Linked DNA regions of Homo sapiens. The protein of the gene in region 3 interacts with the protein of the main gene of each other region in a pairwise test. Each region holds a gene or a part of one and is shown on either strand. Other genes may lie near its edges.

Region 1 (7,027 bases), on a different chromosome or scaffold from region 3:
GCGAGGTGATGAGTTTTTCACACTCACCACTTGTCACTCAGTGCTCTGGCGTTGGGGCAGCACCCGCAGCAGTCACCAAGGCTGCACCCAGTAAAACACGAGTGTGCTGAGGTTACGCCAAGGAGCAGTGACAAAACAACTGGACCCTGGCTCTGAAATGCAGAGAGGTAAGCAAAACTTGGTTGTTCCACAGAAACAATGACATTTCTATAAAAGCAAAGCAGATCCTCCACATGATCACTAAGTTGGTGCTAAAATTTCTCCAATACAAATTAGATTTGCCAAAGTTTGAATGGCTAATGTGACTAAACAATTATGACGTCTGGCATACCAAATCCTTGATTTCTACACAGAAAGAGCAATGCAAAACCTGAGGACTTTAAAATATTTTTAATATATTAAATGATAGGCTATTTGAAACCTTCTAAAACACTTACCTTTCCTCTAATTTGGGAGCTTTGGGACAAATTGTATCTAGTTCTTCAGATGCTTCTAGCTCCTAAAATAAGCACACATACCAGTTTTATGAAAAAAATTATTATAACATAAATCTCCTTGATCATACCATAACACAGATTATTGATCAATCAACTAATCAGAAATACTGTGTATTCATTGCAGGTTCTTATTAGTAAATATAGATTCATAAGAAATTTGTATCTTAGATTTATCACAACATTTTAAAAAGTATGCTCTAAATGGAATTTCTTTACAAAGCACAGACTTCTCAATTCTAACCTTAATTATATCAAGTCCTCCTATGAGCTCTCCAGAAACATAGAGCTGAGGATAGGTAGGCCAACTGGAATAGGCTTTGAGTCCCTGTCGAACCTCTTCATCTGAGAAGATATCAAAACTGCTAAACTGAATATTATGTTTGTGAAGAATTTCCACCATCTGCTTGCTGAAACCTGTACACAAAAAAAGAAATAAAGCACTTAACTTCTCTCTCCCAAAACACATACACATGATAATACATTAGTTCAGCGTACATATCATCTAAAAGACATAGACGCCTGCCTTATTTTGCTGGTGATTTAATTAGCATGGCTGAATAATATACAAAGAGAAAATAAATTCCTGGATCCCCTTATTTGACCTTGAACCATATCACACACTCAGATATGACTTAACTTTTTGACACAACTGTGACTACTGAAAAAAAAAAAAAAAGTGGTGTGTGTATTTATTAAAGTTATTCTTCAATATCATGGACATTTTTTGTCACAGGAGAAATAGCACTAGCCAAAAAGCAGAGACCTGGGGGTGATGGTGCACACCTGTAATCCCAGAGACTGGGGAAACTGAGGCAACAGGCTCACTTGAGCCCAGAAGTCTGAGGCTGGAGCGACCTATGAGATTGTCACTGCACTCCAGCCTCCAGTTTGAGTGATAAAGCAAGACCTTGTCTTTAAACAAAACCAGAAATCTGAATCTGACACCTGCTCCCTCCACCCACCAAGGTGACACATGATGAGGCCATGGGTGGCCTCCGCTCAGCACTTTCCTACTAATCAGGAGACTGACCTGATGCTCTGACAGTCCCTCCCAGCCTTTCTGTTATGAATCTATGAGAATCAATTCTGGGCAGATGAAAAAATTCTACAATTGTTATTTTTAACTACTACTTGACTATACTTAAAACCCAATGCTGTTGCATTTCTACTGCCATTTTACTACTTCCTGAGTTCCCACTTCAGTAGTTCTCAATCTTCACTATCTCTAAGTAGGATAAATTAGAAATCAAGAAGGCATGTGTTCTCCTGTAGTCTAAAATACACACAGTACATTGAATTTTAAAGCTATCTTCTCTGTTGTTATATATGAACCATCAATAGATTGACGGTATTCTTTCTCATCTCATGTCATAACTTGACAGTTTCTTTTTTAAAACTATTTACATTCCCTAAAGTATGTAATGTAATTTTTTTACTACACTATAGCGACAATTTTATGTTCCATGATTTTATTATACTTTTGTGACACATTTTTATTCTGTACTTTTTTGACATCATCTTATTATGACATTATAACTGAAGAATAAGAGTGTGAATATCAGTCTTTTATAAACCTATTAGCCTAGTCTGAAAAAAAAAGTATTTTTCTTTCCATAAGCTAATTCTTCTCCATTGTTCCCAATACTATGTAGGGCCCTACTCTTTCACGCCTCATTCTTCTTCTCAAACACAGTTGTAATTCACTGGAAAAGAACCTATTCTTCAGATTCAAAATTTCTATAAGACTTAGCAGTGTCAGCAATTGTTTTTAAATAAAATCAAACCATAAAATTCAATATAAGATTAATTGCAAGAATGGGCTTTACTGATGTCACCCAAAATCATATTTACTATTAAAACATGGATCTACAAGTGAGCTCTAAACATTTTCCAAATCTGCAGTTTATTGAGATGAAGCACTAGTATTTATTTGTATAGCATATAAGTTGCTTTTCCTACATCTGAAGTGTTAAGTTCATGTACAGCCTGAAGTAAAACACTGATTCTGAAATTTTTTTATTCATCTGGGAGTTCATTAGTAAACAGCTAACGGCTGATTGCTGATGGTTATTCTGTTGCCAATATATTAACTCATTTTTACTGTAACTGGCTGAGAAGAAGCTTTATTTTAGCTTTAGGCAATTACATGCAGACTAGAAAGATTGATTGGTAGTGTTTCATTTTTAAGAGTTAAAGTGGCAGACTAGAAATGTTACGCTTAAGGATAAGATGGCAAGAAGGCTTTATTCTAGTAACAAAATATTTACACACCTTTTTTTAAGAAAAATGCATGCATGCAATAAAAATATTTAAATGTAGAAAAGTAATGTTTAACTGCCACAGAATCCCCATTTCCACCCCCAGTCATTTCTACTCATGACATGAATAGGTGCCTAACACCGCATCTCATCACTACCTAACAATAAACCCTAAAAAACATCTCTGAAACCTGATTCTGTGGCTGATTCAAAAGTAAGAGCCCGGCTGGATGACTCTCACTGCAGAAGGAATATCTGACTATGCCTCAAATACCTTTTGCTTTGCTAAAAGCTTTGTTAACTGAAATAGTTATAAGAATTCCCAAATAATTAACCTGCTCAAGGATTTAAGATTCTGTTTAAGATGACATATACCTCAGTGCTTCTGGAAACTCTTCCTAAAACAAGCATTTTCCCATCTTCATGAGGAGCACAGAGTAAGGACAATCCAATTCTTTTCAACTGAGACCCTATCTACACGTCAGGCTCATAACACACCATACAATTCTGCAGGTAGAGCCCACATGAAGGATAAGAAGATGGAGACATGACCTGTGCAGGGGTTAGGCTGAGTCCAGTGGGGCTCCAGGAGAGACCCTAAAAATGGCTTTCAAGGTTTTCTAGATATAAAATTTAAATGTTATTCATTCATGTTTTTCTGATTAGCAGAAAGCAAGGTGGGGACAAACTAATCAAAAAACAAACATCAAAATACTCCGCAGTGGGAGTTCAGTGGTGTTAGCAGAGATAGCACTTTCAAAGCTAATTTGGTGCAAAATAAGGAAAGAGCAGCCACGTGCGTGTTCACAAGATGAGATGGCCAGTGCTTTTATAAAGGGAGCTTTGCCTACGCCCTTCTCTAAAATGCCAGAAGAAGAGCAAAAACAATGCTCCACTAACCAGGCTCAGAAAGGAACAGCAGAGGGTCGAGGTGACTTATGTTCCCATAAGAAAACAGTTTAAAAATATTTTCCAATTAATCCTAAGTATTTTATTAAAGAACAGCAACATTCTTAAATGATCTATTTACTATATGTGACAGAAAGACATGAAACAGAAAATATCAGGAAACAGAAAAACCCACTGAAAATGTAGTTATAAAAATTATATAGAAGTACTTTAAAAGAAGAAACTGTAACCATTCAACCATATGTATCTCAAAATATTTATTGTCTTTTATTAATTAAATAACTATAATACTACGTTTTCAGATGGCTCTGAAATGTGTTTTGTTTTGTTTTGAGACAGAGTTTCACTCTGTCACCCATACTGGAGTGCAGTGGCTCGATCTCGGCTCACTGCAACCTCTGCCTCCCAGGTTCAAGCAATTCTCCTGCCTCAGCCTCCCAAGTGGCTGGAATTACAGGACTCCACCATGCCCAGCTAATTTTTGTATTTTTAGTAGAGACGGGGTTTCGCCATGTTGGCCAGGCTGGTCTCGAACTCCTGATCTCAAGCGATCCGCCCACCTCAGCCTCCCAATGTGCTGGGATTACAGGCATGAGCCACCACGCCCAGCCCTGAAATATTTCAAAGCTTCTTTTTTATTCTGTTATTTGTACAGTCTTCCAAATCTCACTCCATTATAATAAACATAATTTAAATAAGTTTAATATAAATATAAAAATGCTAGCAGTATATTTTAAATTCAGTTTAATAAAGTAAAAGGTAAGCAGAAAAATTAAAATGTCTAAGTTTCTCTCTAATTTACTTGAATAATCATACAATATCTACACTGAAAAGGCCCTCCAAGATTGGCTCCAACAGCCAATCTTGTTCCCAACAGCACTAGAAGGAATTAAAGGCACAAGGAGGGTACCTGACTTGTCCCCAAAGTTGCTAAGGCCGCAGGGGTGGGCCTGAGGCTCGCCTGGCATGACACCCAGTGCAGCACACTTCCCAGGACATCCTTCTCCTCTGAGCACTCCTTCCCCAAGCTTCAGTGTTGCCACCTGCCTTTTCATTAGGTTTATCATTCAGAAAAGACTGAGACTGCTGCTGTTCAACCCCAAAGGAGAGAATACTGTAGAGATTTCACTGTAGGTGTGCTTCACCCACATTTCACAGCCAGTTCTACTGTACCTGAGATCTGAATGAAGGTGCTGAATACAATCCATTCAACTGAAGTGGTAAGTTCCCATTTAGTGGCCACCGCACAAAGTACAAGAAATAATTTTCATGTTTCATGGAAGAAGGTGAATGTGAACCATTTGCAACCCCCGTTAAAAACAAAATAACAAACGCAACAGAGACTATCTGTTGCTACCTTTAGTTTAGTACAGACTAAGTTAGCTTTGCAATACACAAATAGCAGGCATTATCTGACACATAAATACTGGCAGGGAAATTTTTTAGGCAGAACTAAGAGATACTTTTAAGACAGAATTCATGGTGGCTCACGCCTATAATCCCAGCAGCACTTTGGGAGGCCAAGGCAGGCGGATCACCTGAGGTCAGGAGTTTGACACCAGCCTGACCAACATGGACAAACCCTATCTCTACTAAAAATACAAAAAAATTAGCCGGGCATGGTGGTGGACACCTGTAATCCCAGCTACTCGGGAGGCTGAGACAGGAGAATCGCTTGACCCCTAGTAGACAGAGGTTCCGTCGCACTGAGATCGTGCCATTGCACTCCAACCTGGGCAACAAGAGCGAAATTCCATCTCGAAAAAATAAGAATTCATCATGAAACTTTATTTTTAAAACTAGACATTATCATAAGCTAATATGTAATTTAATAACCCTACAGGGAAGAATTTAGAATCAAATTCACACTAGAAGCTTGGCTATCTTTATAAAGTCACTCTGGACATGCTGTAATCATATCAAGAGCATACTCAATGTTACTGCCCCTATCTTAATAAAGTCCCTCCTGTGTAGTTGATACAAATACTCTTAGAGTCTCAACAGCATCATCAAATGGCATTAAATGCTCAATTATGCAGCATACTAATGTTGTACTAGGCACAGTAAAAAGAAAATAACATAAACCCACTACCAGAGGGGTCAAATAACTCTAAAACTTACTTAAGGACAAAATTATAAGCATCCATGTGTACAGAAAATAAGAGTGACTACAAGCCAAGAATTCGGAATCTTTCCATTACCAGCAGCTATAAACTGGAAATGACAGCAATGCAGGAAGAGAATCATTAGACAGTGATGACACAGGGGAGGCAAAAGCACACAGGCTGGACACAAAAACACTGAAAAATTCCGCAAATTTTTTAATTGCTGAATCTGAACTAGGTGAAAAACAGGAGGCTGCCAAGAAAGAAAAAATAACTGTTAACAGCAAAAGTAGATAAACAGGCAAAAGAGACAGCAATATGGTAGTTGGAACCTAATCCTAACTCTGCTTACCAGGTGACCTTGGGCAAGTCACCTCTATCTTTGAGTCTGAGGACTTCAGTATAAAACAAAAATCTGAATTAGATGAGTTCTGAGACCCCTTTTGGTTCCAACATGCTGAGTCCATAATGCAAACTAATTCTTATATAGTGTCATTGGGAATTATAACCTTTTTGATTTTCTAAAAGTATGTGAACACAAGTATAAGATGTATGGTATAGCATCCTTGGAAACAGGATGCCCATCTCAACCATACCCCATTCTGGGAAAGCACCCATTTTGTTTATATTATGTTAAAGGCAGCTTCTTACCACAGCGTGGTTCTTGAGGAGTTCCTTTCATAAACAGCATGCAGGGGGCAGCATGAGTCAATTTCTTCAAGCGAAGGTTGAGATCTTCTTTAAGATGTTCATTAGCGCTGGGTAGGAAGGAGCCACTAGATGCATGTCGCTGAACTTTTTTGGTCAACTCTGGGGCATGTGCACCATCTAATCGGTCGATTTTCTGAGAATTCTAAAGTTTAAAAAGTTATTTAGAATACATGCAGCATTCCATAATAATGACATTGTTATAGCAGATTTTTAAAGGGGACAACAGTATTACCGGAGATGTAAAAAAAGAAACCCTCATTGCCAATTGCCTGCACTGCATCTCAATTTTAGAAATACATAATTTTTTTCTTTTCTCAGAAACACACTGAGAAAACACTGCAACATCTCAAAGTCAAATCAGGTCAGTCTAACATAATACAAAAAAGACTGCCCCCACATTGGCTGGAATGAATCTATTACTAAGTATAAATGAGGTATTTGGGGAACTACGATGACACCCATGGGTGCCTGGAAGCACAGGTGTGCACCTGCTTCCTAAAAGTCATTCATCAAACCAGAACCAGCCAGAGATTCCATTATGTCCAGG
Region 2 (7,515 bases), on a different chromosome or scaffold from region 3:
CCAACTTGTGCTACCAAGTGAACAGACTATGAGTAAAGGCCTCTTCTTCCACTTTGCAGCTGCTCATATCATTGACAAACGAGCATATTAGAGCATGCATGCTGGCTGATCATTCTGATTAAGGCAACAAGCTTCACAACTCACTCAATGAGGTCGTCCGTGAGAACTTCACTGATTTTACGAGGACAGGAGCTACTTCTTTGCTGAAATGCATCACGGTTTCAACTGCTGAGGTTTTCCTCAACCTTTTGCATTGTTTGGAATGTGAGCAGCACGGCCGAGACAAACTTTGGGGTTCCCACTGCATTGTTAAACCTCCCCCTTCACTTCAAGGCCAGGCGAGCAAGGGAAAGGAGCGCGGCCTGGGCGTCCCGCAGGGCCCCGCTAAGGACCGCTCCCGCCTTGAGCGCAGCCACAGGCCCTCTCTGGCCACAAGGATGGGGTCGCCCCGCAGACACTGTTGACCAGCGGAAGCATGACCAGGAGGCGATTACCTTCTAATCACAAATAACTTTATTTTTAGGTAACACCACGGAGGACGCCATGAGAGCTAAGGCCGTTGGGTAACCGCCCTTTCCGCTCGCGCTGCGTCGTCTCCCTGCCCCGAACCACCGGCAACCGATGCTGGGAGCGGTTGAGGGCGGCCGGCTGCGCGCTGGAACCCCGCCCGCCTCAAGGCTCCTGCGCAGGCGCGCAGGGCAGGCGTGGAGCCCGCCCTGGGAGGGCCCCGCAGGAGATGGGGAAATGGAGGGACGCTGCACCAGGGCGCTTCCTGGGGCCAGGCGACGCCTTCTCCTTGGAGCCTCCAAGACCGTCCCTCCTAGAAACGAGAGAGTCTGACCGGGCGCGGTGGCTCACGCCTGTAATCCCAGCACTTTTGGAGGCTGAGGCGGGTAGATCACCTGAGGTTGGGGGTTCGAGACCAGCCTGGCCAATATGGTGCAATCCCGTCTCTACCAAAATTACAAAAATTAGCCAGGCGTGGTGGCGCGCACTTGTAGTCCCAGTTACTTGGGAGGCTGAGGCAGAATTGCTTGAACCCAGGAGGCGGAGGCTGCAGTGAGAGGAGATCACACCACTGCACTTCAAGGTGGGAGCAAGACTCCATCTCAAAAAAAAAAAAAAAAAAAGCTAGTACAGAAGCAACTCACTGACTTGAGTTTGTAGTAGCTTCAGAACAAACTTTCATCATCAGATCCTTTCTGCTCATTTGCAGGATTCCTACCGTCTGTCTCCACGTGATGACACTGAAGAGCCTTCACGTCTATGACGGCCTAGGGTCTCAAGTGCAGAGACTGAGAGCTCTGCCAGACACAGCATGGAGCCGCCATTCCTCTACTGTTCAGTGATTGGGTGGAAGAGCATCTGTCCTCTGAACAGGGGATCCAAGCCCTGAGATGATGTTTCTCAGCAGTCAGTGTGGCCCAGGACTTTCTGTGGGCATGCTCAGAGAGCAGGGGCCAGAGGACTTTTAGCCACCACCTTCTATGGCCAGTCTTCACAAATTACCTTTGGCTAATTTGATTGTCTCTCCTCCTGGGGTCTAGGACTTCAAACACATACAGAAGCGATTGCAGAATTGAAACAAGACACTTCCACAATATACTTTTTGTATCAGTGGCTCAGAAAAAGACTCATTCAAATCCTGTATCAAAGCCATGTGTGAGCATCTTGAGAAAGCATTGACTGACTAACTTGACAAGGGAGGAAGCAAACAAGAATTCTGCCCTTCTTCAGTGCCTGAGTGTGATATTTTGCCTCAACATCCCTCTTAGATGAAGTTACTGATTGAAAATCATTTAAGTTTTTGCCCCGTGATAAAAGATCGCGTCCTCAGAAAGATCTCCAAAGCATTTACTGTTTGTTTGGTTTGGTTTTGGTAAGTTTACCATGATTTTGCTTGAATTGCTCTCCGCTGATCTTCTCAGCTAAGATCGAGGTAGAGTTGCACAGCAGAAGAGGGCTGCATGTAAGGAGGCAGCTCTGTCTCGGAGGACAAAAGGCCTGGGAGCATCCAGACAGGCAGTCACTGTGTGGAGGTCACTCCCCTCCCAGTGGCCACTGTGGAGGCATTTCATAGAAATGCTCGCTGGACCATTCAGTTTTAGAGTTGGGACAAAACCGAGAACTCATGAGGATATCGGATAGGAGTTAGGAAATGACTTTTTCACACAACCCAGGCAAGGAGGGGAGAACCCTGGGCTTGAGACTTGCAATCCACTGCCTGCCCCTGCAGTGTGGCCCGTTACGTTTTCTGCAACTCTGCCTTCTTGAGTCCAAATGTCTTTGAAAGGGGCAAATGCTTCTTAAGTGCCAACAGGGTGTGTTTCAGTGAATGTTCACAGTGTGCACTGGTCCGGCTGAAGGCCTCTTCCCTTCCCCAACACCCACCCATCAGTGCAAAAGACTGCTGCCCAGCAGGGAGTGACATCTGTGTCTCAGATTTTCTTGCTGTGCTCTGAGTACTCACTCCTCATCTCCTTTGACCAGTTTCCTAACACTCCCCTTGTTCACAACACAGAACATGAGTGCTCTTTCCTGTCATTTTGACGCTGATAAACAGCAATTCTGTGTGAAAATGAGAATGAAGATTTTTTTAAAGACAGGCTACAATAATTCCCATGCTGAGAACCACATGTGATGACACTTGTGATGAAGATGAGGACAGCAACGAGCTGAGAGACTCCAACCAGGATTCACACATGCAAGGGGATGCATGAGAATGGGGATGGGACATTGGTGGTTAGCATCCTTGCTTGTCTCAGAATGGACGTGGGTTGTGGATTTCTAACTCCTGGAGAAACCAGAGTTCTAGGAATTGTAAGCCACTTTATGTTAGGAAAGAAAAAGACGGTGTTCTGCTCTCCTGTCCCTTAAAACTGTGCGTACTGCCACTAAACCTGGAAGCTGAGAACGGTATAATGGCTACTCCTGACTTCCTTTCATCAAATCAGCCTGCTATTGTTTTCTGCAATGGTTGTGGTGCAGAATCTTTTTGTGGTGCAGCCAAGATTCACACTTGAGTCTCCTTACTGCAAGTTCGCACTCTCACAGTGGAGAGTTAACAATAATTGCCTAATATGTTACACTTTTTTGGGAAGAGTTACCAGATAAAGTGCAAGATCCCAGTGAAATGTGAATAGCACAGATAAAGGACAGATTTTTTTTTTTGTAAAAGTGTACTCTAAATGTCATATGGATCATAATTATAGTAAAAACTAATTCACTGTTTATCTTCAATTCAAATTCCACTTGGTATTCTTTATTCATACTTGCTAAATCTGGCCACTATGTTCTTTCATGTATTTTTAATTTTAAAAAACAGTCCAACATCTCATTCTAGCAATTTACCTACAGAAATAAAGAGAGGAACCACATTACTGGGACAAATACAGTCACTGCAAATATCAGAAGAATACTAGAACATATTAATATATTAATTTTTACCCCCAAAAAACTGAAAATATTTTTAGACAGCAAAAATAGCTTCATTATGCTTTTGATTGCATAATATATCTCTGGAAAGATGAAAAAGAATCAGATAACACCTATTTCCTCCAGGAAAGAAAATGTGGTGGCCAGAGAAAAGAGGTGGGAGGAAGGCTGGTCATTGTCTATTCCACTGTGCACAATTTGAATTTGGAACCATGCAAAAGTATTGCTTAGTTAAGTTAAAATCATGTAAAAGATACAAAATAAACATTTAACACCAGCACAATATGCTGGGAAACAAAATGAAAGGATTTCTGGTCTCGGTGCTGTAGGTCACATAGCCTCTCTTTCCTGGACTGAGTCTTCCTAAGAAAGGGGACGGGAAGTAAGGCTGGCCTACTGGTGTGGACAGATTCCAGCAACATACATGACCTGGGGGCACAAGGACTGCTTCCTAAACAATGATGAGCACACAGCCACCTAATAGCCTGGATCAGCTGAGGCCATTCTGATTTCAAACACTCAGTCCCCTTGCCTTCCTAAGAACCCCTGTGTTTCTCAGACTGAAAACGTGTTCTGAATTTTGTTAAGTAAGTGTGGCCCCTGTTGAAATTCATCAAGAGTGGGAAAGAGCCAAAGTGGGAAGGAGCATGGGTTGATTGGCACAAAAGTAGGTCTGTTGATAAAGAATGGAAGTAAAGGGGACATCAGGTAGAAGCTTTTGCTGTGAGTCAGAAGGACAATTTAAAAGTTGCCTAAAGAGGCGCACACTGTCTGTGTTGCTGCCATCCAGTTGGATGGCAACCAACTGAACCAAGGGAACCTCAGGTTCTTGCCTACTGGCCAGAGCCCTTCACAGAATGTCCCCCACCCCCGCCAAGCCCGGCTGCCCACTGCCCCTCCCCCTCTGCAGAATGTCTGGGGTCCTGTGTTCCAAACCTGTTTATATGCAAATTATCCCTGCTCCACTTGGACTCAGGAGGATCTGCTGAGTCAGGTCACTCTCTGGGTCCTGCCCTTGACTTTTTTCATTGCGGAAGCTGCCAGACAGTGGTGGTCAGTGCCCAGCCTGAGGGGATGGCTTCAAATGGAGGTGAGCCTGTAGGGATGGGGCATTATCCGAGTCTGCCTTGCCTCAACTCCTTGGGAATTCAAATTTGAACTGTCCCTGGGGACAGCTTATAGGGCTGATGTTGAGGGAGGGAGCACTGGATGTCCCCAGGGACATCACACCTGGGGATGGCCATGGCACCCTGAGTCTGTGGTTAGGGAGGAGGGCTCCTTAGAGGCGGACCAAGATGCCTGGGGGAATACACCGTGTAGTGGAAAGGATGGAGAGGATGGGTTGATCCTTTCTAGAGGGGGACAGGTCACGTCATTGTGTTTGTAGGGAGTGGTGGGATCGTGTTGTGCTGGTGGCCCAGGGAGAATGACGGGCAAGCCTGAGCCCTGTGCCGTGTCTTCAGGCACCTGGAAGGTGCCCTTCCATAGTGTTTAGAGGGATTTGGACTGGAGTTTTCTAGTTCTTAGAGAGGAGTGGGGAGAAGTGGTCTCAGCCAGAAAACTGTTGGGTGGGTTGGCTGTGACAGAGCATGTAGTGACAGCCTCTGGGTGGGCAAGGCTGGGGGCCACTGCAACTGCCACAGCCCAGAGCCTCTCAGCTTCCTCCCCAGAGATGGCTTCTCCGTCAGTTCAGGTAGCTGTTGGCTTTGATTTAACAGGGGTGGGGGCAGAATGGGGAAGTTCAGGCAACACAGGGCCTGGGTTTCCTGAGTTGTTCTGAATTGTTTGCCCTTTGGTGGAAGCTCAGGTCTTCAGACCCACTTCCTCTCGTCAGCTAGCTCATGGCCCGTCCTCTGTACTTTGTGTTACTGTGGAGGTGAAGAATTTGCTCCTGTTCCATTTATACTACCTCATGAACGGGCGACAGGTGTGGATTCTTGCTGGTTCTCAGTGGAAGGCTCTGAAAAGGCTGGTTTCCTTTTCAGTAGAGGAAGGAGAGTAGCGCACAAATAGGAAGACAGTCCTATTATTATTATTATTCAAACTAGGATGTGTGTCCTGACTGATGAGGTGCATGTGCTGTATCCCTTATTCCCCTTGGCTAGAGACTGCATGAGGTCCTAGTGAACAGGGATGAGTTCCAGACAACTCTGCCTCACCTGGCCTGTGGCCCAAGAACCCCTGGTTCTTCGTTGGTCCCTATGTTCAGTTACTGGGAGCTCAAAGGAGAAGGACCAGAGATGGGCTCCCTGTCCCACTATTTAGTGTAACATGACTAGCAGCTGTGAAAATCCCTGGCCGGGCGCGGTGGCTCACGCCTGTAATCCCAGCACTTTGGGAGACCAAGGCATGTGGATCACGAGGTCAGGAGTTCAAGACCAGCCTGACCAATATGGTGAAACCCCGTCTCTACTAAAAATACAAAAATTGGCTGGGCATGGTGGCGGGCGCCTGTAATCCCAGCTACTCAGGAGGCTGAGGCAGGAGAAGTGCTTGAACCTGGGAGGCAGAGGTTGCAGTGAGCTGAGATCGCACCACTGCACTCCAGCCTGGGTGACAGAGCGAGACTCCGTCTCAAAAAAAAAAAAAAAGAAAAAAAAGAAAATCCCTAGACACCTCCCCTGATAGCCCTGCTGCTCACCATTTGCTGGCTGTGTTCTAGTCATGTGCAGCTGTTGCTGGCTACACAATGACAATATCTCAGGGGACTCCACCACTGCTTCTCAGATCTGCTCCCTGGGAACTGAGCTTCCTGAGTGGCAGCTGGGACCACTGAGCACTGAGGAATGGGTGGCCTGAATCTGACCCCTATTTAACACTTGTGTGGGTGGTGCCAGGACAATCACTTGCATGCTGGGCGTGATGTGTTATGGGTTATCTTCAGGGTTCCTAGGGCACTGGCTTGGGTGAGTTTCCATCCAGTGGTTTTCTTTTTTTTTTTTTTTTTTTTTTTTGAGACGGAGTCTCGCTCTGTCACCCGGGCTGGAATGAAGTGGCACGATCTCGGCTCACTGCAGCCTCTGCCTCCTCGGTTCAAGCAATTCTCCTGTCTCAGCCTCCTGAGTAGCTGGGATTACAGGCACGCACCATCAGCTAATTTTTGTATTTTAGTAGAGACGGGGTTTCACCACGTTGGCCAGACTGGTCTTCAACTCCTGACCTCAGGTGATCCACCCGCCTGGGCCTCCCAAAGCGCTGGGATGACAGGCATGAACCAGCACGCCCGGCCTATCCAGTGGTTTTCTTTTGTTGTGTTGAGCTAGGAAAGAAAGGGGTTTACAAGAGCTTCAGGGAAAGGAAGACTGAAGAGGAGATGGGGCCATAATATTCGGAAACTTCTGGTTTCCTGTCGGCCTTCTGAATGCCGAGCACTGCCCTGGGGTAGGCCCCTCACCTGCTGCTGAGCACACTGAGAGCCACCAAGCCACCGAGAGACTCATCCCTGACCCATGGCTTGGGAGATGCCTGTGAGGCTGGTGCAGTCTGCCAGGGACACCCGAGGGAGACCCTCAGAGACAGCAAAGGCTTGGCTGTTTCTTCTTGGCAGACAAGGGTCAGGGAGTCTTGGTGACTGGCGCCAGGCTCTCTAGTGGAGCGACTCTGCCGTGGAGGAACAGAGCATCTGATGCACACTCAGGGACACTTGCAAGCTGCAGAGTTTCCCTGTCACATGCCCTCAGCTGTTGGGACTCCCCTGATTCCCCAGTGACTAGTGTGGACCTGGAGACGCCAGCTCATTCACCTCTTTCCTTTGTCTCCACAGCATACCCAGTGCTGGGACCCGGCGTGACCGTGAACCCTGGCACCTCCCTGTCTGTGTTCACGGCTCTGCCCTTTGCCACACCCGCTCCCGGCCCAGCACACAGGCCGCCCCTCGTGACTGCAGTGGTTCCTCCAGCCGGCCCTCTGGTGCTCTCTGCCTTCCCCAGCACCCCTCTAGTGGCAGGACAGGATGGCCGCGGCCCGAGTGGGGCCGGGGCTTCCAACGTCTTTGTCCAGATGAGGACAGAAGTGGGGCCTGTGAAGCCCCCTCAGGCACAGACCTTGATCCTAACTCAGGCCCCCCTCGTCTGGCAGGCT
Region 3 (7,027 bases):
ATATCACATTTCACATCCCAGCTCTTACACATATGCATATGCAGCTGTGTGAATGTCTGGGTAAAATGTTCCTTTTAATTACACTTGAAAATGACAAAAGAAAGAAAATTATGAGACCCAAATTTTAGCTTTAGTTCACTTAAAACTTTTCACCTCCATTCATTCTTTATGCATCATATGAATATAATTTATATCCTATCAGGTTCACCAGAGAAGAAATAAAACAGAACAGCCAGCATTCTGAAAAAAAAAATTTTTAAATTCAATCCAAACATATAATCAGGAAAATCTTCATAATCACTTTGTGCATGATAAATTGTCGAGTAAGACTCAATGACAACACATTAATTCAAGTGACTTCAATTTTTTATTTTTTCTTATAATCTTTAGAAGATTGGAGAAGTATCATGTAGAATATCTCCCCTCCCCTCTCCCCACCATTCCTAATCATTCAAGAAAAACTGGGATCTAGGAAATGCATTAGTAGACTATCAGTGGTATTATTATGTACAATTGGTTAAAGCACCATGCTAATAATAAGGCCAGGGTCCTAGGACTGATCATTGCGAGGGCCAATTAGTTTAAATTTGTTCCATGGACCCAGACTGCACTCCTAACCACAGACAACTTTCTTACAATGCATCCCGCTGGTCACAAGCTAGGGTACTGGCAAGGTGGTAGATGGATGAAAACAAATCTCCACTAATGAAAGAAAAAAGAAAAGAAATCCCACGTATGCTGACAGTGGGTTAACAGAGTCTTATCTGTAAAGAAAAGAACACATATTTTCTTCGCTCTATGATAAACACGTTTCAAGTCTAAAATATTCAATGACAGTAACATTTGACTCTTGCATTTTAGAATAACATTCCACATAAAGCTATAATAAAGGCCCTGATAATTGTTACCCAATTTGTGTAACTGTTAATTCCACACAGAAATTCTTTTCTCTTTACGGTTATATCTATGCACCATGATTTTTGCATATTTACCATTCGTTATTTGGTTCAGAATATTGTGAAAAATTCAGCTCGAAAATTATCCATAAAACTGTATTCTATATTTTATTTTTCAAACAGCCAGTGTCCACATTTAAAATGCAGAATTTGCAAATATTAGTCTAATAATTCAATTTAAAGTAAAGCAAAACAACTTCCTTTAGTATCACAATACATAAAATGGTTTTATAAACTCCAAATGGCAAAGATAACTATATGACAATAGTGTTGAAAGCCGTGAAACTCATTAAACCTCTTATCAATAGGTCAGTTTAAAGAACATCTCTATGTTCCATGACTATGCATGAAACAAGCTGTCACTGTATTATAAAGGCTCAGCAATTCATTCATGGCATAATATAGGGTCAAGCAAGATTTTGTTTTTACAATGACAATTAAAACATATTTAAAGAAACAAAAAACCTCCCAATTGTTTAAAAACAATTCTATTTGGAGAGCAAAATATTTTAAAATATATCGACTTACCAAATTTCAATTGTCAGGCTGCTGACTACTGATGTAAAAGTTTATATTTAAAAATATCACAAATCTCTTTTTATTTAACACTGAAAATTTCAATGTGATAAGTTTCATTGCAAAGCAACTGTCACCTGAGTAGATTTTAAAATTTAGTGCTCCTATTTTTTGGGGGAGAGGGGAAGGAAAGACCCATTTTGTATCTGATCCCGAGTTTGCAGTTGAGTCCTTCCCAATGATTTCTTAGGGAGTTGAAGAAACAACCTGCTGCAACCTTCCCAAGACACACGATGCCCCCCTTTCCCTCGGAAATTTGCTCTAGCATTTTAGGAACTCTCAGTATTCATCAAATATTTCCATTTCACTACCCACTCAAGCATAGCAACCCAATTCATTTAGTTCTATACAACAGTGTCTATATTATGTACATATTTAATTATCAATAGGAAATAGAAAATAAAAATTTACAGTGATTGAGAAAAGGTCAGAAAATGGGATAGGAATAGTAATACTGTATAATCAGAATATCCTATTATCTTACCAGTTTTAATGACAGGGTTTTTCCTTTATTAGTTGAAATACAAAGAAGGCATAGGGGATCCCAGGAAAATAACACTATATATCAGAAAATTCAACGTGCTCCACCATCAGGATTTCCATCACACACATTTAATTTCTTCTGTACAATGTTTATAAACTTGTTTTTCTTTTCAAAATCATCAGATTTTCAGATTAAATTCAGCACTACACAGTATGCCCTTGAAGTAAAATGAGGTTACCTGCTTTATTTGGATACCAAGTTCCCTTCAGACAGCATTAAAATAAAGACAAGTAAGACTACACAGATAAAATCCAGTATAATTCAAATCCAACAATGAAAAATTTCCCCCATATTGTTGCAAAATTCTTTCTACTGAAATGCTTTGCTACAATAATAAAAAGCATACATTACATATAAAAGATACCAGTGTACTAAAAAGTGACAGAAGTGGACTAGCAAATCCTTCAAAGCACATTATATAAATGACTAGCATTTAAAAACATTTTTTCCTATAAAATGTAGGTCATATACATTTATAAATTGGCGGTTTTATTTCTAAAGCAGTGATGTGTGTGTTCAAATAGCTGTCCTGTACAGTATAATATCTACTCACTTGAAACTATAATAGGTTTGTCTTTCTTTGTATTGAAGTTGAATAAATTCATCTGATCAGCTGAGAAACCAAGCTTGAAAAATAAGTATCTAAAAATCAATGTAGAAAGTTTAGAATTATTGAAATGTAGTTATGAAATATGAAGAGAACTATCTATTTCACAATGGAGCTGAAGTCACCTCAAAACTTACGGGCTTGAATCTAAAACAGAAACAAATATTAAAATCCAAAGCAAATCACAAAGTTAGGTAGCAGTACAGAAGCAGGAAAAAAAACCACATCCCTTCCTTCAGTGTGATGGGCACTAAGTTTTGCGGTCTTCCTCCATCTTGCAGAAGAGTGGTAAGGCCATTCAATGCTTAGTGAAAGTGAGTACAGATGAAGTCAGATTTAGCCTGTCTCCCCTGCAACTTCAATTATGCTGTGTAAACAGTGTTACGTTCCAATAGGAGGAACAATGGAATTTGCTTATAAAAACTGATTAAAGATAATCATTATTAAATGAAATAAGGATAATTAATAACTCTGAAATGTTTTTAGAACTTTCCTGATGCTACTTGTAAAGTTAGCACTGCTATGTATTATTGCTTACATACAGTACAACATCATATGCCTTCTAACATAAAGCAGTACTGTGATTTGTTTGTACATATTTACAGATTCTTAAAAACAAGCTGTAAAAACATTACATACTTTCAGACAATACAAATTAGCACATTGGTACTCACTTCAAAACAAATGGAATGCATAACATTAATAAACATCATAAAGGAAGACTCACATAAAAGTCCTTGATTGTCAAGACACGTTTATATATAAACTCTAACTGTGCAGAATTAAAGATTCAATCATAGGTACATCCTTATTTGATGAACCATATTTACAGCATGGTATTGCATAAAAAAATAAAATAATGTTTACAGGGTTTTACTTTTTTATCCATTGGATTAAAGAAAGCAACAAACATAACAAGAAATGTTTGTCTGCTTTAGTTTGTTTCCTACCAAAGTTTAAGTGAAAAAAGGAAACACGGTTTTTATTTGCAGAATATAGCAAAACAACTGGAAAATTATTTCCCTGAAATAAAGCAATTTGAAACGGAAAATTAAATTAAATTTCAGACTCAAAATACTTCTCAATGATTATTATAGTGCTTCTTCAAGTAAATATACTGTGAAAAAAAAATGAGTTCTAGTTTAAAATGTTCTAAGAAATGCAGTACTACAGTAATGCCTACTTTTAAAGTTTCCCGGCCTTTTTTTTTTTTTTTTAAACAGCCCTTTAAAAACCCAAATTAATCAAATGAAAGAAGCGGCAAAAGATCTAACCTAGCTGGCACTCTGCAAGTGTCTCTCCTCTGTGGAAACGAAATCCTGCCCTGAGCACAATTCTTGACATAACTGCCTTCTGCCTCTTGAGATAAAAATGACCTGACCGATGGCTGGCACCCTCAGCCAGAGCTAAGAAGATGGATTCCTACCTTGTTAAGTACCACATTTGCATGTAGACCCAAAACGTTTAAGAGCCACTTAAATATTCAAGACAAATGAAATATGTGAGAATAAGGTTTTAAAAAACCCTTTAGAAGATGTTCAAGAGATACTGCCTCGCCTAACGTGATGTTTCCAATCTTCAAACGTGAGTAGGTCCCAAGAGGAAAAGCACACCTCACTCAGATTGATCAAAAGTTTAAGGGTGTACCAGCATGTTTTTATAGAACAATGTGCTCACTTTGAGAAATGAGAAACATGAATTGCAGAAGAATATCTCATATCCTCCATGTTTCAATCTGAAGCAGCACACAAGGCTACTTATTTTCTCCATTAATGCCCAGATAGAAATTAAATAACCTTCTGAACCAAAGTGGGGAAATCCAAAACTGTTGAGATGTTTGTCATATTATGATAGAACAAGGTAACTCTGGTAGGCATTTGGAATTTCACAGTAAGAGAGTGATGACTATACGTAAATGGTAAGTCAATAAGTTATGCTGGCTGAGTATCACTTATCTAAAAACTGCTTATAACCTGGTAGAAAAGTCTGCCATTATGTAGATTTAAAGAAATGTGTTGAAAACAGGAATGCAACACCTGAAAGTCTGCTTGCATAACTACCATTTTCAAAGGCCTTCCTTCCCAAGCTCACCCTAAATGCTCAGCAAGAGTCACATTCTAAAAACTATGCTGGTGATGTTAAAACAACCGAAAAAAACCTCTCCACTGTATCAAAATTGCATCAAGTTCTCCATGAACAAAATTTTTGATCAGGCTCCAAAACAACTCAAGAAATAAATGCCTACTCTCACCAAAAGAGAAAAATACCAATGCCTATTTAGGGTGAGCACAGTTCCATTTTTAACGTATCACCTGAATGAAGCCTTTTTGTAATTATGTAATGCACAACACAACACACACAATCTTAAGAGTCAATAATGGCAGAACTTAAATATTTACTTCAAAGAAGTCTTAAATTCTTGAAAACTTTGGCAGCAAAGAAAGCTGTCAAACGGGAAAACTACTATTTCAAGCAAAACTTAATAACCAAAGTATACAGGAAACCACATTAAATATAATTTATATTCCTTATCATAAAAACACCAATATATTCAAAATAAATGAAGGATGTTAAGGGTGGATAGTTATTTCTTCCCTTTCTTTATGAGAACAGTCTTGGGATAACATTAAATAAAAGAAAAAATAATTTAAATGGATAACATATTCTATATTGAAACAAAGACTGCAGAGCTATAGGGCCAGTATAAGAGTCAAAATGGAAATTAAGAATATTTTCATTTTCCAAGGGTATTAATTTTAGATTTTCACTGGTGCTATATCAGGATGTGCATTGTGACAACGATGGCAGAAAATTTAAAATGTAAAAATGAAAAAGTTGTAACAAAGAGTCAATAACTAATATAACTTCCAAAAATCAAAACTGCCCAACGCATAACTCAAACCATCATTCTTCAGAAAAGTGTGTGTGTGTATATATACATAAAAGCACTATTTATTGTACCATGCTGTATTATTTTAAGACAGAGTATTAAAAAAAAACATTCATGGTATAAGGATAAAGTCTGTAGTTTATTTAGATTTTGAAATGCAACAAAAATTTTCCGATCACTCATCTAGCTGAAAAAGAAATGGTAGTTACTGGAATTAGTAAACACTTTTGGTTTGTAAAGTTGTAATGAGCAGTGTTCATTAAAAAGTAACTCAAGATAAAATATGCAATTAAAATGCCCATTTCTTTAGTTTCTCTGGATACTGTTTAATTATCCAATCTATCAAGAGTCTAGAAAGAAAAAGATTAAACCAGGTTTTACAGTTCCAAAGATATCCCAATTTCCTTTTATTGCCAAAAGTTAAAATTGTCAATTACGAGATGATTATGACACAACCATATCAAACCTAAAAATCTAATTTTTTTTTTACTTTGAGAAATCAAAAATACCAAATAGATTCTAAGTGCTCTATGTTAACTGAAGTGTATATGTAAAGTAAAATACAATTAAGCTTTAAAACGTGGAATATACATTTTGTGTAAGCATTATGTTCTTGGGAATGTAATCTACAGAATTTCTTTTACTAAAACTTCAAAACCTTGATACCTGCACATGAAAAATCATAAAAAATATCTAAGTACAACTGTACAAAGAAACTGACACCAATATGCATACTTCCATAGAGAAGTGACTGCTTCAACAGTTGTGTGTTTTGGTAAAAGTTCTGAAAGTATGCATATTTTTAAAGTAATTAGGCTTTTAAATAGTGGAGTCTTAGACTATCAGATTTTTATTACTTTTTTTCCTTCAAAAAAACACGTCAATATAATGCAAAATGAAAATCAAGGGTATATGGCATATCATTCTTTTTAAAAGGTGGTTTCTTGGTTTTTTTCCCCCTATAGGACACACTAATTTATTTAAGCCATAATCTCTTGACATTAAACTTTTAAGTTCACTCTGTCTGTAAAGTATACTCAGATTCCCTGCTGAAGTGCAATGACTATGCTGAAAAACTTAGAAACAGTATGAGTAAATTTCACACAATTACTAATCTCCTAAGAATGTACAATGTTATCAGTTAGGAAACAATTGTGCGAAAGTCTTTTTTTTTTCCTTTTTAACTTGGTGTGGGTGGAATAGCAAGTTTCTGATCTAAAACAAGTAATGCATTGCTTCTATAAAGGTGACAACATGTAAGGCAGTTCAAAGAATGCTGACTAACCAAACGAAATGCAGTTATTGGATTATCTTGCTATTCATATCAGCTTAACTTGTTATTACGCATTGCTCTTAAATCTGTACAGCACTCCATTTACACAGAGTAACCCCACTCTTGATTAATCTGTTCTAAAGTGCCAGTATTATTTACACTTTTTTTTTTTTTTTAGCCA

Evidence for each region. The genes of interacting proteins can lie anywhere in the genome.
Region 1: the proteins of ZNF148 (region 3) and GLRX3 interact in binary tests that used the Homo sapiens proteins (3 or more experiments, as listed by UniProt).
Region 2: the proteins of ZNF148 (region 3) and NUTM2F interact in a two-hybrid assay, tested with the Homo sapiens proteins (3 studies listed by BioGRID and IntAct).

The regions. Positions count from the first base shown.
Region 1 is NC_000010.11:130,160,391-130,167,417, reverse strand, and holds part of GLRX3 (glutaredoxin-3), read right to left. Parts: intron 6,623-7,027; coding exon 6,421-6,622; intron 912-6,420; coding exon 739-911; intron 500-738; coding exon 438-499; intron 1-437. UniProt on the Homo sapiens protein: Together with BOLA2, acts as a cytosolic iron-sulfur (Fe-S) cluster assembly factor that facilitates [2Fe-2S] cluster insertion into a subset of cytosolic proteins.
Region 2 is NC_000009.12:94,325,618-94,333,132, reverse strand, and holds the start of NUTM2F (NUT family member 2F), read left to right. Parts: upstream 1-4,488; 5' UTR 4,489-4,509; coding exon 4,510-4,525; intron 4,526-7,198; coding exon 7,199-7,515.
Region 3 is NC_000003.12:125,225,321-125,232,347, forward strand, and holds the end of ZNF148 (zinc finger protein 148), read right to left. Parts: coding exon 7,021-7,027; 3' UTR 349-7,020; downstream 1-348. UniProt on the Homo sapiens protein: Involved in transcriptional regulation. Represses the transcription of a number of genes including gastrin, stromelysin and enolase. Binds to the G-rich box in the enhancer region of these genes.